Linked DNA regions of Homo sapiens: region 1 is linked to region 2. Evidence: fine-mapped expression QTL. A gene starts in region 2. The other region holds a variant in brackets. All regions are shown on one strand. Distances are from middle to middle. Region 1 holds the start of MIR7975 (microRNA 7975). Region 2 holds the start of TNNI3 (troponin I3, cardiac type).

The links. PIP is the estimated chance that this variant, and not a neighbour inherited with it, causes the effect.
Region 1: its variant is fine-mapped to the expression of TNNI3 in lung (TOPMed, PIP above 0.99).

Annotation. Positions count from the first base shown.
Region 1 is chr19:55,122,261-55,130,575 of GRCh38, forward strand. It overlaps MIR7975 (microRNA 7975), which reads right to left and starts at 1,032; the gene lies at 965-1,032. The variant C/G (reference allele first, on the strand shown) is at 4,456.
Region 2 is chr19:55,153,801-55,162,082 of GRCh38, forward strand. It overlaps TNNI3 (troponin I3, cardiac type), which reads right to left and starts at 3,932. Exons shown (of 8, transcript NM_000363.5): 1 at 3,779-3,932; 2 at 3,496-3,508; 3 at 3,250-3,333; 4 at 2,803-2,844; 5 at 2,401-2,532; 6 at 941-1,030; 7 at 230-406. The coding sequence starts at 3,789. DNAAF3 (dynein axonemal assembly factor 3) reads right to left here. Exons shown (of 12, transcript NM_001256715.2): 6 at 7,843-8,025; 7 at 7,493-7,618; 8 at 7,265-7,387; 9 at 6,840-6,975; 10 at 6,099-6,213; 11 at 5,733-5,807; 12 at 4,865-5,649. The coding sequence ends at 5,262. It overlaps DNAAF3-AS1 (DNAAF3 antisense RNA 1), which reads left to right and starts at 5,509. Exons shown (of 4, transcript XR_007067345.1): 1 at 5,509-5,645; 2 at 7,246-7,414. RefSeq lists enhancers at 3,123-3,710, 6,952-7,878 and a silencer at 6,827-6,936.

The DNA of each region.
Region 1 (8,315 bases), 32 kb before region 2:
TTGAGACCAAGTCCCACTCTGTCATCCAGGCTGGAATGCAGTGGCATGACCTCGGCTCACTGCAACCTCCACCTCTGAGGGTCAAGTGATTCTCCTGCCTCAGCCTCCTAAGTAACTGGAATTACAGGCACCAGCCACCATGCCTGGCTACTTTTTGTGTGTTTTCAGTAGAGATGGGGTTTCACTATGCTGACCAGGCTGGTCTTGAACTCCTGGCCTCAAGTGATCCACCCGCCTCAGCCTCCCAAAGTGCTGGGATTACAGGCAGGGGTGAGCCACTGCGCCCACCTGGGGTAACTTTTTATGCCACAAAAGCAAACTGATGCAAGGCATTCCAAGAGGCCTTTGAGCCTCTTGCAAGTCAAGCTGATTGCAAGACACTCTGCCTTTGATAAAATGTAGTGGACAGAGAAGCAGTGGTTTCAGTGGCAGAGATGACAAATTGTTGCCCAATATTCGTTGTCCCCTTCTTTCTCAACAAAATGGAACCTCTGATTATGCTGGGTTTAGCATAGCCATCTAGAATAATGGTTACATATCCCAGTGTCGGGCCTCCGAGCCCAAGCTAAGCCATCATATCCCCTGTGGGCCTGCACATATACATGAAGATGGCCTGAAGCAACTGAAGATCCAAAAAAGAAGCGAAAATAGTCTTACCTGATGACATTCTACCATTGTGATTTGTTCCCGCCCCACCCTAACTGATACGATATATTCTGCCTGGTCCTTAAGAAGGTACTTTGTAATATTCTCCCCCGCCTTTAAGAAGGTACTTTGTAATATTCTCCCTGCCCTTGAGAATGTACTTTGTACGCCCATCCCAAACCTATAAGAACTAATGATAATCCCACCTTTGCTGACTCTGTTTTCGGACTCAGCCCACCTGCACCCAGGTGAAATAAATAGCCTTTTTGCTCACACAAAGCCTGTTTGGTGGTCTCTTCACACGGACGTGCGTGACATTTGGTGCCGTGACTAGGATCAGGGGACCTCCCTTGGGAGATAAATCCCCTGTCCTCCTGCTCTTTGCACCGTGAGAAGGATCCACCTATGACCTCGGGTCCTCAGACCAACCAGTCCAAGGAATATTTCACCAATTTTAAATTGGGTAAGCAGTCTCTTTTTACTCTCTTCTACAACCTCTCTCACTATCCCTCAACCTCTTTCTCCTTTGAATCTTGGCGCCACCCTTCAGTCTCTCCCTTCTCTTAATTTCAGTTCCTTTCCTTTTCTGGTAGAGACAGAGGAGACGTGTTTTATACGTGAACCCAAAACCCCAGCGCTGGTCACGGACTCGGGAAGACAGTCTTCCCTTGGTGTTTAATCACTGCGGGGACGCCTGCTTGATTATTCACCCACGTTTCAGAGGTGTCTGATCACCACGGGGACGCTTGCCTTGATCCTTCACCCTTAGTGGCAAGCACCACTTTCCTGGGGGGCAAGCACCCCCCACCCCTTCTCTCCATGTCTCTACTCTCTCTTTTCTCTGGGCTTGCCTCCTTCACTATAGGCAACCTTCCACCGTCCGACCCTCCTTCTCCCTTAGCCTGTGTTCTCAAGAACTTAAAACCTCTTCAACTCACACCTGACCTAAAACCTAAACACCTTATTTTCTTCTGCAATGCTGCTTAACCCCAATACAAACTCGACAATGGTTCTAAATAGCCAGAAAACGGCAATTTTGATTTTTCCATCCTACAAGATCTAGATAATTCTTGTCGTAAAATGGGCCAAAGGTCTGAGGTACCTGATATCCAGGCATTCTTTTACACATTGGTCCCTCCCTAGTCTCTGTTCCTAATGCGACTTGTCCCAAATCCTCCTTCTTTCCCTCCTGCCTGTCCCCTCAGTCTCAACCCCAAGCGTCACTGAGTCTTTTCAATCTTCCTTTTCTACCGACCCATCTGACCTCTCCCCTCTTCCCCAGGCTGCTCCTCCTCAGGTCGCTCCCCACCAGGCTGAATCAGGCTCCAATTCTTCCTCAGCCTCCTCTCCCCCGCCCTATAATCCTTCCATCACCTCCTCTCCCCACACCCGATCCAGCTTACAGTTTTCTTCTGCAGCTAGCCCTCCCCCACCTGCCCAGCAATTTCCTCTGAAAGAGGTGGCTGGAGCCAAAGGCATAGTCAAGGTTAATGCTCCTTTTCCTTTATCCGACCTCTCCCAGATCAGTTAGTGTTTAGGCTCTTTTTCATCAAATATAAAAACCCCGCCCAGTTCATGGCTCGTTTGGCAGCACCCCTGAGGCCCTTTACAGCCCTAGACCCTGAAGGGTCAGAAGGCCTCTTATTCTCAATATGCATTTTATTACCCAATCTGCTCCTGACATTAAATAAAGCTCCAAAACCCCCACAACAGGACTTAATTAACCTCGCCTTCAAGGTGTACATTAATAGAGTAGAGGCAGCTGCATAGCAACATATTTCTGAGTTGCAATTCCTTGCCTCCATTGTGAGAGAAACCCCAGCCACATCTCCAGCACACAAGAACTTCAAAATGCCTACGCCGCAGTGGTCTAGCATTCCTACAGGACCTCCTCCATCAGGATCTTGCTTCAAGTGCCAGAAATCTGGCCACTGGGCCAAGGAATGCCTGCAGCCCGGGATTCCTCCTAAGCTGTGTCCCATCTGTGCAGGACCCCACTGGAAATTGGACTGTCCAACTTGTCCGGCAGCCACTCCCAAAGCCCCTGGAACTCCGGCCCAAGGCCCTCTGACTGACTCCTTCCCAGATCTTCTTGGCTTAGCGGCTGAAGACTGACACTGCCCCATCACCTCGGAAGCCTCCTGGACCATCACAGATGCTCTGGGCAACTCTTACAGTGGAGGGCAAGTCTGTCCCCTTCTTAATCAATACGGAGGCTACCCACTCCACATTACCTTCTTTTCAAGGGCCTGTTTCCCTTGCCTCCATAACTGTTGTGGGTATTGACGGCCAGGCTTCTAAACCTCTTAAAACCCCCCAACTCTGGTGCCAACTTGGACAACACTCTTTTATGCACTTCTTTTTAGTTATCCCCACCTGCCCAGTTCCCTTATTAGGTCAAGACATTATAACCAAATTATCTGCTTCCCTGATCATTCCTGGGCTACAGCCACACCTCATTGCCACCCTTTTCCCCAGTTCAAAGCCTCCTTCACATCCTCCCCTTGTATCTCCCCACCTTAATCCGCAAGTATGGGATACCTCTACTCCCTCCTTGGTGACCGATCATGCACCCCTTACCATCCCATTAAAACCTAATCACCCTTACCCCACTCAACACCAATATCCCATCCCACAGCACGCTTTAAAAAGGTTAGGCCGGGCGAGGTGGCTCACGCCTGTAATCCCAGCACTTTGGGAGGCCGAGGCGGGCAGATCACGAGGTCAGGAGATCGAGACCATCCTGGCTAACATGGTGAAACCCCGTCTCTACTGAAAATACAAAAAATCAACCGGGTTTGGTGGCGGGCGCCTGTAGCCCCAGCTACTCGGGAGGCTGAGGCAGGAGAATGGCGTGAACCTGGGAGGCAGAGCTTGCAGTGAGCCAAGATCGTGCCACTGCACTCCAGCCTGGGCGACAGAGCAAGACTCCATCTCAAAAAAAAAAAAAAAAAAAAAAGGTTAAAGCCTGTTATCACCCACCTGTTACAACATGGTCTCTTGAAGCCTACAAATTCTCCTTACAACTCCCCTATCCTACCCATCCAAAACCAGACAAGTCTTACAGGTTAGTTCAGGATCTGTGCCTTATCAACCACATTGTCTTGCCTATCCACCCCATGGTGCCAAACCCGTATACTCTCCTATCCTCAATACCTCCCTCCACAACCCATTATTCTGTTCTAGATAAACCTAGCTGACCCCATAAATCCTAAATCCTTTCCCCACTCCCCTTTCCATTCCTTAAAAAACAGCCCTGGCCGGGCACAGTGGTTCACACCTGTAATCCCAGCACTTTGGGAGGCCGAGGCAGGTGGATCACAAGGTCAGGAGATCGAGACCATCCTGGCTAACATGGTGAAACCCCATCTCTACTAAAAATACAAAAAATTAGCCGGGGGTGGTGGCGGGTGCCTGTAGTCCCAGCTACTCAGGAGGCTAAGGCAGGAGAATGACATGAACCTGGGAAGCGGAGCTTGCAGTGAGCCGAGATCGCGCCACTGCACTCCAGCCTGGGCAACAGAGTGAGAGACTCTGTCTCAAAAAAAAACAAAACGAAACAAAAAAACAAAAAAAAACAGCCCTAAAAGCTGCTCCCACACTAGCTGTCCCTAACTCATCCCAACCCTTTTCATCACACGCAGCTGAAGTACAGGGCTGTGCTCTCAGAATTCTTACACAAGAGCCAGGACCGCGCCCTATAGCCTTTCTGTCCAAACAACTTGACCTTACTGTTTTAGCCTAGCCCTCATGCCTGTGTGTGGTGGCTGCCGCTGCTTTAATACTTTTAGAGGCCCTCAAAATCACAAA[C/G]TATGCTCAACTCACTCTCTACAGTTCTCATAACTTTCAAAATCTATTTTCTTCCTCATACCTGATGCATATACTTTCTGCTCCCCGGCTCCTTCAGCTGTACTCACTCTTTGTTGAGTCTCCCACAATCACCATTGTTCCTGGCCCGGACTTCAATCCGGCCTCCCACATTATTCTGGATACCACACCTGACCCTCATGACTATCTCTCTGATCCACCTGACATTCACCCCATTTCCCCATATTTCCTTCTTTCCTGTTCCTCAGCCTGATCACACTTGGTTTATTGATGGCAGTTCCACCAGGCCTAATCGCCACACACCAGCAAAGGCAGGCTATGCTATAGTATCTTCCACATCTATCATTGAGGATACTGCTTTGCCTCCCTCCACTACCTCTCAGCAAGCTGAACTCATTGCCTTAACTCAGGCCCTCACTCTTGCAAAAGGACTACGCGTCAATATTTATACTGACTCTAAATATGCCTTTCATATTCTGCCCCACCATGCAGTTATATAGGCTGAAGGAGGTTTCCTCACTACGCAGGTGTCCTCCATCTTTAATGCCTCCTTAATAAAAACTCTTCTCAAGGCCACTTCTCTTCCAAAGGAAGCTGGAGTCATTCACTGCAAGGGCCATCAAAAGGCATCAGATCCCATTGCTCAGGACAACGCTTATGCTGATAAGGTAGCTAAAGAAGCAGCTAGCTTTCCAACTTCTGCCCCTCACGGCCAGTTTTTCTCCTTCACATCGGTCACTCCCACCTACTCCCCCACTGAAACTGCCACCTATCAATCTCTTCCCACACAAGGCAAATAGTTTTTAGACCAAGGAAAATATCTCCTTCCAGCCTCACAGGCCCATTCTATTCTGTCGTCACTTCATAGCCTCTTCCATGTAGGTTACAAGCCGCTAGCCCATCTCTTAGAACCTCTCATTTCCTTTCCTTCGTGGACATCTATCCTCAAGGAAACCACTTCTCAGTGTTCCATCTGCTATTCTACTACCCCTCAGGGATTGCTCAGGTCCCCTCCCTTCCCTACACATCAGGCTCGGGGATTTGCCCCCGCCCAGGACTGGCAAATTGACTTCACTCACATGCCCTGAGTCAGGAAACTAAAATACCTCTTGGTCTGGGTAGACACTTTCACTGGATGGGTAGAGGCCTTTCCCACAGGGTCTGAGAAGGTCACCACAGTCATTTCTTCCCTTCTGTCAGACATAATTCCACGGTTTGGCCTTCCCACCTCTATACAGTCTGATAACGGACCAGCCTTTATTAGTCAAATCACCCAAGCAGTCTCTCAGGCTCTCGGTATTTAGTGGCTCCTGGTTTTACCTCAAATCGCCTTAAGTCTCTCTTGAAGTGGATAGATCTTCAGTGGCAAGGTACCCTCCAATACTTTCACCCTGATGAAGTCCTATTCTTTACTTCTATGCTCACTGTTATTCTGGTTCCCATTCTTTTTTTTTTTTTGAGACAGAGTCTTGCTCTGTTGCCCAGGCTGGAGTGCAGTGGCGCGATCTCGGCTCACTGCAAGCTCCGACTCCTGGGTTCACACCATTCTCCTGCCTCAGCCTCCGGAGCAGCTGGGACCACAGGCGCCCGCCACCACACCCAGCTAATTTTTTGTATTTTTAGTAGAGATGGGGTTTCACTGTGTTAGCCAGGATGGTCTCAATCTCCTGACCTCGTGATCCGCCCGCCTCAGCCTCCCAAAGTGCTGGGATTACAGGGGTGAGCCACCACGCCCGGCCTTGGTTCCCATTCTTATGCCATCCTCTACCTCTCCCCAGCTATCTCCACCACACTATCAATCTCACTCTCTCCCAGCCATTTCTAATCCTCCTTTAACAAACAATTACTGGCTTTGCATTTCTCTTTCCTCCAAAATTGCCAAGGCCTCGACTTACTCACTGCTAAAAAAAAAAAGGACTCTGTATATTTTTAAATGAAGAGTGTTGTTTTTACCTAAATCAATCTGGCCTGGTATATGACAACACAAAAAAACTCAAAGATAGAGCCCCAAAACTCACCAGCCAAGCAAGTAATTATGCTGAACCCCCTTGGACACTCTCTAATTGGATGTCCTGGGTCCTCCGAATTCTTAGTCCTTTAATACCTGCTTTTCTCCTTCTCTTATTTGGACCTTGTGTCTTCTGTTTAGTTTCTCAATTTATACAAAACCGCATCCAGGCCATCACCAGTAATTCTAGAAGGACAAATGCTCCTTCTAACAACCCCCAGTATCACCCCTTACCCCAAAATCTTTCTTCAGTTTAATCTCTCCCACTCTAGGTTCCCACGCTGCCCCAATCCCACTCGAAGCAGCCCTGAGAAACATCGTCCGTTATCTCTCCATACCACCCCCAAAAATTTTCACCGCCCGAACACTTCACCACTATTTTGTTTTGTTTTTCTTATTAATATAAGACAGGAATATCAGGCCTCTGAGCCTAAGCTAAGCCATCATATCCCCTGTGACCTGCACGTACACATCCAGATGGCCTGAAGCAACCGAAGATCCACAAAAGAAGTGAAAATAGCCTTAACTGATGACATTCCACCACTGTGATTTGTTCCTGCCCCACTAACTGATACCATATATTCTGCCCCACCCTTAAGAAGGTACTTTGTAATATTCTCCCCGCCCTTGAATGTACTTTGTACGCCCATCTCAAACCTGTAAGAACTAATGATAATCCCACCATCCTTTGCTGACTCCCTTTTCAGACTCAGCCCACCTGCACCCAGGTGAAATAAACAGCCTTGTTGCTCACACAAAGCCTGTTTGGTGGTCTCTTCCCACAGACGCACGGGACACCAGCATCCCTACCAACTGGGTATGATAATGTAATTAACTTCTGTCAATGAGACTGAGTAGGAGTAAACATGTCTCCTTCCATTTTACCCCAGTCTGCGGTCTGAAACAGAGTGGGAACTATCTTACCCTATGGGCAAAGGCAACCCCCTGGGGAAAGGAGCTACACAGTAGGATGAGCTTGGACCCAGGCAATGTTACAAAACAGAGCCATCATCCCAACTCAGACTTTTACATGTGAAAGAAATCAACTATTGTCAGCCAGGCAAAGTGGCTCACACCTGCAATCCCAGCATTTTGAAAGGCTGAAGCGGGAAGACTGCTTGAGCCCAGGAGGTTGAGGCCGCAGTGAGCTGTGATTGCACCACTGCACTCTAGCCTGGGTGACAGAGGGAGACCCTGTCTCAAAAAAAGAAGAAGGCCGGGCACGGTGGCTCACGCCTGTAATCCCAGCACTTTGGGAGGATGAGGTGGGAGGATCACGATATCAGGAGATCAAGACCATCCTGGCCAACATGGTGAAACCCCGTCTCTACTAAAAATACAAAAAAAAAAAAAAATTAGCTGGGTGTGTTGGCACGGGCCTGTAATCCCAGGTACTTGGGAGGCTGAGGCAGGAGAATCGCTTGAACCAGGGAGTGGGAGCTTGCAGTGAGCTGAGATTGCGCCACTGCACTCCAACCTGGTGACAGAGCGAGACTCCATCTCAAAAAAAAAAAAAAAGAAAAAGAAAAAGAAATTAAAACAAAAAAAGAAAGAAAGAAAAAGAAAATCAACTGTTGTGTTGGTCCATTTGGGCTGCTGTAACAGAACACCGTAGACCTGGTCATTTACAAACAATACAAATGTATTGCTCACAGGTCTGTAGGCTGGAAAGACCAGGATCAGGGCGCCAGAAGACTCAGTGTGGAGGGAGGGCCTGCTCTCTGCTTCACAGATGGTGCCTTCTTGCTGTGTCCTCACACAGCCAAAGGGGCAAGGGGCTCTCCCTCAAGCCTCTTTTATAAGGACATTAACCCCATTTGTGAGGGCTCTGCCT
Region 2 (8,282 bases):
TGCACCTGGACCTTCATGTACCTCTTTGCTCTTACATGGACTTCCTGTAGCCCTAATGCACTTCCTGTCTTCCCCTTCTACTTCCTGTCTTCCTCTTGCATTTCTGAGGACCCCTTACTAGCTGCTTCTACCTCCAACTCCAAGCACCATCTGCCCTCAGGCCTAGGGTTGTTGGCACCCACAGCCCTTCCCCTCAGCATCCTCTTTCCTGGCCTTAGCCCACACTCACCTTCTCGGTGTCCTCCTTCTTCACCTGCTTGAGGTGGGCCCGCAGGTCCAGGGACTCCTTAGCCCGGGCCCCCAGCAGCGCCTGCATCATGGCATCTGCAGAGATCCTCACTCTCCGCAGGGTGGGCCGCTTAAACTTGCCTCGAAGGTCAAAGATCTTCTGAGTCAGATCTGCAATCTGGGGGCACACGAGGGGGTGGGTACTTCTCCTTCCATTTCCCGCACACCCAACTCCTCCATCCTACACTCCTTTTTTATTCTCCTTATCTCGTCTTCCAGTACCGAGGCCTTACCAGTCTCTTCCCGGCTTAGGCTCCCAGTCTAGGCTTCTAATCCTGGAACTGAATCCCCCTCCTCATATGCTCCAGCCTCACCTCTCAAAACCACTGGCATAACCTGGTCCAGCTACATGCAAATCACAATTCCCTGGCCAGTGCCTGAGCTAATTTACCAACATGTGATGCCCTGAGCATGTTCACTAACTTATTTTCTGTTTCCCAACCCATGGCCTTGCATGTGCTGTTCCCTCTGCCTAGAACAGCTTTCCTTGACTATATTGTACTCATCCTTCTGCCCCAGCCCTGCCAGGCTCACAGTTGTCCTGGGTCTCCTGGGATGTGCAGCCAAAAGCAGCTGCAAGGGGTCAGGCAGAGACCAAGTCCCAGCCATCTCACCCTACCCCGAAGGTACCCGAGCTGCCCATGCGTCCCACCTCCGTGATGTTCTTGGTGACTTTTGCCTCTATGTCGTATCTCTCTTCATCCACCTTGTCCACACGGGCGTGGAGCTGTCGGCACAAGTCCTGGAGGAGGAACGTGGTGTGTGTTGTTGGGGGAACCAAAAACAGGGAGACCTGGACTCCTGGGTCTGAGGGAGAAGGGGCTCGGGGCCTGGACTCCTGGGTCTGAGGGAGGAGAAGGGGCTGGGGGCCTGGACTCCTGGGTCTGAGGGAGGAGTTGGGGGCCTGGACTCCTGGGTTTGAGGGAGGAGAAGGGGCTGGGGGCCTGGACTCCTGGGTCTGAGGGAGGAGGGGCTGAGGGCCTCGATTCCAGGGTCTGAGGGAGGAGGGGCTGGGGACTGGACTCCTGGGTCTGAGGGAGGAGGGGCTGGGGACTGGACTCCTGGGTCTGAGGGAGGAGGGGCTGGGGCCTGGACTTCAGGGTCTGAGGGAGGAGGGGCTGGGGACTGGACTCCTGGGTCTGAGGGAGGAGGGGCTGGGGCCTGGACTCCAGGGTCTGAGGGAGGAGGGGCTGGGGCCTGGACTCCAGGGTCTGAGGGAGGAGGAGCTGGGGCCTGGACTCCAGGGTCTGAGGGAGGAGGGGCTGGGGCCTGGACTCCAGGGTCTGAGGGAGGAGAGGCTGGGGCCTGGACTCCAGGGTCTCAGGGAGGAGAGGCTGGGGCCTGGACTCCAGGGTCTGAGGGAGGAGGGGCTGGGGCCTGGACTCCAGGGTCTGAGGGAGGAGGGGCTGGGGACTGGACTCCTGGGTCTGAGGGAGGAGGGGCTGGGGCCTGGACTTCAGGGTCTGAGGGAGGAGGGGCTGGGGCCTGGACTTCAGGGTCTGAGGGAGGAGGGGCTGGGGCCTGGACTTCAGGGTCTGAGGGAGGAGGGGCTGAGGGCCTCGATTCCAGGGTCTGAGGGAGGAGGGGCTGGGGACTGGACTCCTGGGTCTGAGGGAGGAGGGGCTGGGGCCTGGACTCCAGGGTCTGAGGGAGGAGGGGCTGGGGGCCTGGACTCCAGGGTCTGAGGGAGGAGGGGCTGGGGCCTGGACTCCAGGGTCTGAGGGAGGAGGGGCTGGGGCCTGGACTCCAGGGTCTGAGGGAGGAGGGGCTGGGGCCTGGACTTCAGGGTCTCAGGGAGGAGGGGCTGGGGACTGGACTCCTGGGTCTGAGGGAGGAGGGGCTGGGGCCTGGACTCCAGGGTCTGAGGGAGGAGGGGCTGGGGCTTGGGCTTCTGTCTGGGATAGGAGGGCCACATGGTCCTGAAGGAGTAGGTTGGAGCCAAGACTCCACAGACCTGCACACAAAGGGTGTTAGGGGCCAGGAGTCCCACGAACCATATATAATTGGGTAAGGACAGCCATATTGGACGCCTGGGTCCCGAGCAGAAGAGGGGATAGAGGCTGTACTGCTGAATTCCGGGACTAGAAACCTCGCATCCTTGGGAGCCGGTACCTGCAGCTCCGCGAAGCCCAGCCCGGCCAACTCCAGCGGCTGGCAGCGGGTGCTCAGAGCGCGCCCCTTCTCTCCGCGCCGCTCCTCCGCCTCTCGCTCCAGCTCTTGCTTTGCAATCTGCAGCAGCAGAGTCTGCAGAGGGGTGGGAGGGAAGCGCAGCCCACCCGGGGCTTCAGGATAAAGACCAGGCGTGGGGAACCGCCTCTGCCCTTCTAAACCCTCCAGTTTGGTCTCCACTGTTCCAAGGCCCCGTCCCACCCCGAGCAGTACTCCCCGCTAAAGCCACGCCCCGAGCGGCCAAACCCCGCCCACTTCCGCCCACCTACCCCGAAAGCCCCACCCATTCTCAAGCTCCGCCCCCTGAGCACCTGCCTGCTCTTTCCCAGTCCCGCCCGTCCTCACCTTCAGCTGCAATTTTCTCGAGGCGGAGATCTTAGATTTTTTCTGCCAGGGTGAGATGGAGCAAGGAAGGATCATGGAGGGGGATTCGGAGACGACGGTGGAGGGGACCTCAAGACACCCCCAGCAAACCCAGCCGGTCCAGATTTGGGCCCACGTCCAACTTGAGCCCTGAGTCTACGGGAGGCCACGCCCCTCATTCCCATCCACCAATCTGGGTCTCTTCCTTTGGATAGGCACTTCCCATCTATCCCTAAGCAAGTCCGAGGGCAACGGAGTTCCGCCCGCAGGCTGCTGTCACCAATCCGAGCATGACCCTCTGCAAAACTCCGCCCCTGAAGCCCCTCCGCGTAGTCCCCGCCCCCTTCGCAGCCCTGGCTCCTCCCCCCACTCCCAGGGTCTTGGATCCCTCCGGCGCCTGTACTCTGCCCCCAGGAAGCCCCGTCCCACCTTGGCGTGCGGCTCCGTGGCATAAGCGCGGTAGTTGGAGGAGCGGCGTCTGATTGGGGCTGGTGCAGGGCGAGGTTCCCTAGCCTGGGTTAGGAGGAGTGGGGACCCCATCACCACCAAGACCCCACCCAGCCCTTACCGTACCGCACCCTCTGCTAGGGCTGCAGCCTCCCGCCCCAGACCCCTCACTGCAGCGCCCACCCTGGCCCTGGGGGTCCCAGCCACGCCTTAGCCCGCTGCTCTCACCGCATCGCTGCTCCTGGAAGGAGAGAAACCAAGGAGGGGGGTTAGTGGTGGGCTGTGTCCTGTCTCCTAAGGGACCCCTGGAGTCCCCTCTGAACAAGAGGTCGGGGGACCGCGCTTCCCCTTCCTTGGGTTCCAGGAGTCTGACTCGCAAACCCACTTCCTCTCTTCACCCAAGAGTCCCTACGCCTACCTCGCAGGCCAAGGGTCCAGCCTCTCAGCTGCGACCCCTCTTGGGAACCCGGGAGGTCGCCCCCAACTCCCACTGCCTTGGGGCATCACTCACCCATCCGCCATGCTGAGACTCAGGCCGGGAATGGCAGGAGGCAGGGCGAGGACAGGGGCGTTTGGAGGGTCAGTGAGGGGGCCGCCCGGGTGACCTTCAGGGTCCCAGGGACCGTCAGTCTCCTCCGGGCTGCTTGAGACTCCCCGAGGACACTGAGATAAAGGGCGAGGACACAGACTAAATATACTGTCACCTCCTCCTCCCCCTGCCCACTATGCCAGATAACGGGGGCGCGTGAGGGGCGGGGTGGGCCCTGCTCCAGCTGGATCACCAGCCACCTCCGGGCACAGGAATCCGGACCCTCCTCCCTCTGATCCTGGAGTCCTAGACCCCTCCTCCCTCAGACCCAGAGAATGCCCGACCTCCCAACCTCCTCCTCCCTCAGTCCCAGGACCCTGGGAGACCCTGGCCACTCCCTCACACAAGGAGTCCAGGCCCCCAGCCCCCTTTTCCCTCAGACTCAAGTGTCTGGGCCCCCAGCTCCTCTTCCCTCAGACCCAAGAGTCCAGGCCCCCAGCCCCTCCTCCCTCAGACCCAAGAGTCCAGGCCCCCAGCTCCTCTTCCCTCAGACCCAAGAGTCCAGGCCCCAGCCCCTCCTCCCTCAGACCCAAGAGTCCAGGCCCCAGCCCCTCCTCCCTCAGACCCAGGAGTCCAGGCCCCCAGCCCCTCCTCCCTCAGACCCAGGGGTCCAGGCCCCCAGCCCCTCCCTCAGACAAGGGAGTCCAGGCAGGCCCCCAGCACACTTCCTCTCTCAGACTCAAGAGTCTGCACCCTCAGCTCCTCCTCCCTCAGACCAGGAGTCCAGGACCCCAATCCCTCTCCCCTCAGACCGAGGAGTCCAGGACCCCAATCCCTCTCCCCTCAGACCCAGGAGTCCAGGCCACTCAATAAATGTTGTTGATTAATTTGAGGATGCAGCTGTGCTCGGGGCTAGCTCTCAGTCAATAGCACTGGGAAATCCATCCCTCGTCCACTTGGAAACCCAGGAATCTGGTTTCTGGCTTCCTCTGTCCAGCACTCCTGGGCCTTTCTCTCCCAGCCCTGGAGACGGACATAGGACAGGAAAGACGCTTGGACACACAGAAGGGTGGACACAACTTGCTTTACTTGAACCATCTGGGTGCTGACCAGGCCCTGGTGAGGAGACACCCCAGCCCCTAGTCAGCCACAGGGTGCCTGGGAACAAGGGGGCCAAAGTCAAGGGCCTGAGACTCAGTGTCAGATCCTAGGCTGGGCTTAGAGCCTCAGAAGTGGAATTTGGAATTCTGAGAGAACAATCTAGAATTCTAGGAATAGACCATAGAATCTCAGAAATGGAATTTGAAAGTCTACCAACACTCCCGGGGTGGGGGTGGCGGGTACTGAGTGGGAATGATTAGAATAAAATTGAGGACTCTAGCAGCGGACTTAGAATGGTATCAGCGGGTTCTCATCCTACAACCTGACTTTGGAAGTTGGAGATAAGGGGTGTCTAGGGGTTGGGTCAGACTCCAGTTTTGGAGTCTGACTCACAGTTGGGCGGAGCCAAGGCCCCCTGAGGCTGAGCCAGAACCTCTGAGAGTGAACCTGGAGACTCAGAGGGCAGCTGGCAGGGCTCACAGTGTGGGGTCCCACCCTGCAGAGGCTGGGTCAGGCCCTCAAGGGCTGGGTTGCTGGCTTCAAGAGGCTGGGCCAGGATGTCAAGGGGCGGAGTTCCGGGTTCCACAGCTGGGACAGTGTTGCCCAGAGCTGATTCCTGGGACTTGCAGAAACGTGCGAAGGTCTCTGAAGGCCTGGCCCCGGTCTGTGGAGCAAATCCAGCTGCCTGAGCTAGCTCCCTGACCCGGGTGTTGAATCCCTGCAGCTGCTCCTGCCGCACGTCCACCAGGTACCTGCAGATGGGAAGCGCCCTGTCAGGGACCCAGATTTTGATCCCCAGCCAGGATGTTCCCCACCCTCCACCCCACTGACTCACCGGGCTAATTCCACAATCAAGTTCCCTCCGGGTGCCACACAGGCCCCAAGCTCAGGGATGAGAAGATGGACCATACTGCAGAGAGGACGGAGGACAGGCTGAGATTCAGCTCCAAATCCGGAGGGAGGATGGGGCTCTGGGATCCCAGACAATGAGGGAGGAGGGGTGGCAAAACTGGAGTCTGGGTCCTGGGGAAAGAAGGGAGCAGGAGGTCTGGACTCCTGGGTCTGAGGGAGGAGGGGCTGGGGGCCTGGACCCCTGGGTCTAAGCAAGGAGGGGCTGGGGGCCTGGACTCCTGGGTCTGAGGGAGGAGGGGCTGGGGGCCTGATCCTGGGTCTTTGTGAGCACAGCTGCCTCCCCGCTTACCCACAGGCCACATAGAGGAGCTGGAATCGGCCGTTGTAGCAGCTCTTGTGGTGGAGAGTCTGAGCAGAATTGAGCGGCAGGAAGTGGACGGTGAAAGATTCCGGGGTCGGGGCTGCTGGGGGAAGGGGATAGAGGGGTCACCTCTGACAGGCGGAGCCATAAGGGCGGAAAACCAGAGAGATACACAGAGCTGGGCAGAGCTGGGCAGGCACACAGGACTTGGAGATAACACTTTTTGTCCTCTTGCAGCTTTTTAAAAAATCCTCTAAGGTAGGCTCCTGGAAAGTTCTGGGAAGGTCAGCCTGGCAGGCAGAGACTCACTGTACAGATCAGGCAACTGAGACTCTAGAGAGGGAAAGAGGGTGGGTGGCCAGGGCCACATGTGACATGCCCTGTCAGACAGACACGCAGGGAGGGCCAGGTTGGAGGATGGCTGGAAGGAGGCCCAGCCAGGATCCAGGGTGTGGGAGGCTGTCCAAGGGGGAGCTGGGACCCAGCACCCTGTGAGAATATTCTTGGATAGCTTAGCCCTCTGCAGATAAGATTAGAATTCTGCTAGTGGAATTCAGAATTCTAAGCATGCTCTCAGAATTTAGGAAAGGGAGAGAAAGAGAGAAAAAGAGACAGAATATCAAGAAGCCGTCACTTGCCCAGGCATTCCAAATCATGTCAGTCCACACTCCAGTGTGAAACACCTGGAGGCTGGAGTCCCTGGCTTACCTGTTGTTGTCCCTGGCTTACCTGGAGTCCCTGGCTCCGGGCTTCCCTCCGCGTGCTGCTGCTCCTCCAGGTCCCCCCCGGTGGCTCTCGCGCGCCCCCAGGCGGCCACGTCGCGGAGCAGCTCCGTCACGTTGTGTTGAGTGATCTCCCCGGCCGTCTAACAGTAGAAGGGGCGTGGCCAGACGTCGGGGCCAGGATGGCGGGGCGGGGCTTAGAACGCTGGGAGTCCTCGGTCCAGGACTAGAACTCCCGCAGCTGCTTGGAGGATGTGAAGTGGGGCGGGACCTATCCCGCGGGGATGGGGCCTGTTCTCTGAATGGAGTCGTTCCCACCAAGCGACGGGCGGGGTCTGGAGCTGGGGGCGGGGCCTGCTGTGGGGGCGGGGCCTTGCGCACCCACCGACCCCCAGCCCCACCTCTACCCCCAGTCCCAGCCTCGCCGCGCACCTTGACTGGCTGGCCGTTGCTCGTCCGCAGGAGGCTCTCGTCGTCCGCTTCGATGCCGAAGGCCACGAAGGGCCCCGTGGCGATGTCCCCCCAGTACCCGCGCGCTGCCACGCGCTCCCCACGCTGGAAAAGGAGGGAGAGAGGAGGCAGGTGAGGTCGATGTTGGGGCCCCTGACTCCTAGGACTCCGAGCAGCAGCAGTGGGCCAGGACAGGCAGTGGACACGCACGTAGCTCAGGAGGCGACCGGACGCCAGGGTCCGGTTGGGCACATGATAGGCGCTGGAGTCCCTGAGTTCAAAGGCGACGCCTGTGTCCCGCCAGCGTCGGAACTCCTGGGGGTGAATGACTTGAGCCTGGGGTGGGGGGCGGGAAGAAGGGAGCCCTCAGTGAACCGAGCGTGGAGAGACCCCTACACCAGCCTCCCTCAGACCCAGGAGTCCAGGTCCCCAGGCCCTCCTCCCTCAGACCCAGGAGTTCAGGCCCCCAAACCCTCCTCCCTCAGACTCAGGAGGCCCCCAGCCCCTCCTCCCTCAGACCCAGGGGTCCAGGCCCCCAGCCCCTCTCCTGGGCCCCTCACCCCGCGGTCATGCAGCTTCATGCGCAGGTCCCAGTCGCTGACACCGCGCCGGGCGTCGTAGCGGGAGCCCAGGTAGTGGCGCAGGCGCGAGTCCCAGAGGCGGCTCATGGGGAACGCCTGGGGCCCTTTCTCGCCGCCAGCCCAGAAGCGGAATACGGCCTCCAGGGCATCCCGCTCGCGGAACTGCGGGGCCAGGCACGCGGTGGGACAGAGGAAGGCAGAGAGGGATGCAGGGAGAGCGGATTCTAATTGACCCTCTCTTCCATCCCAGAACAGGGGAACGATTCCCCCGTTTCTCGGATGGAAAAACTGAGGCTCCGAAAGCAGAAGCCACCTCCTGCCCCCAGGCCAAATCCCACAGTGGGAGTCGGGGAACTGGGATTCGAACCCCCTAGCCCGCCGCCTGCTCCATCAACGCACGTCCTTTGGACTGTGCGCTT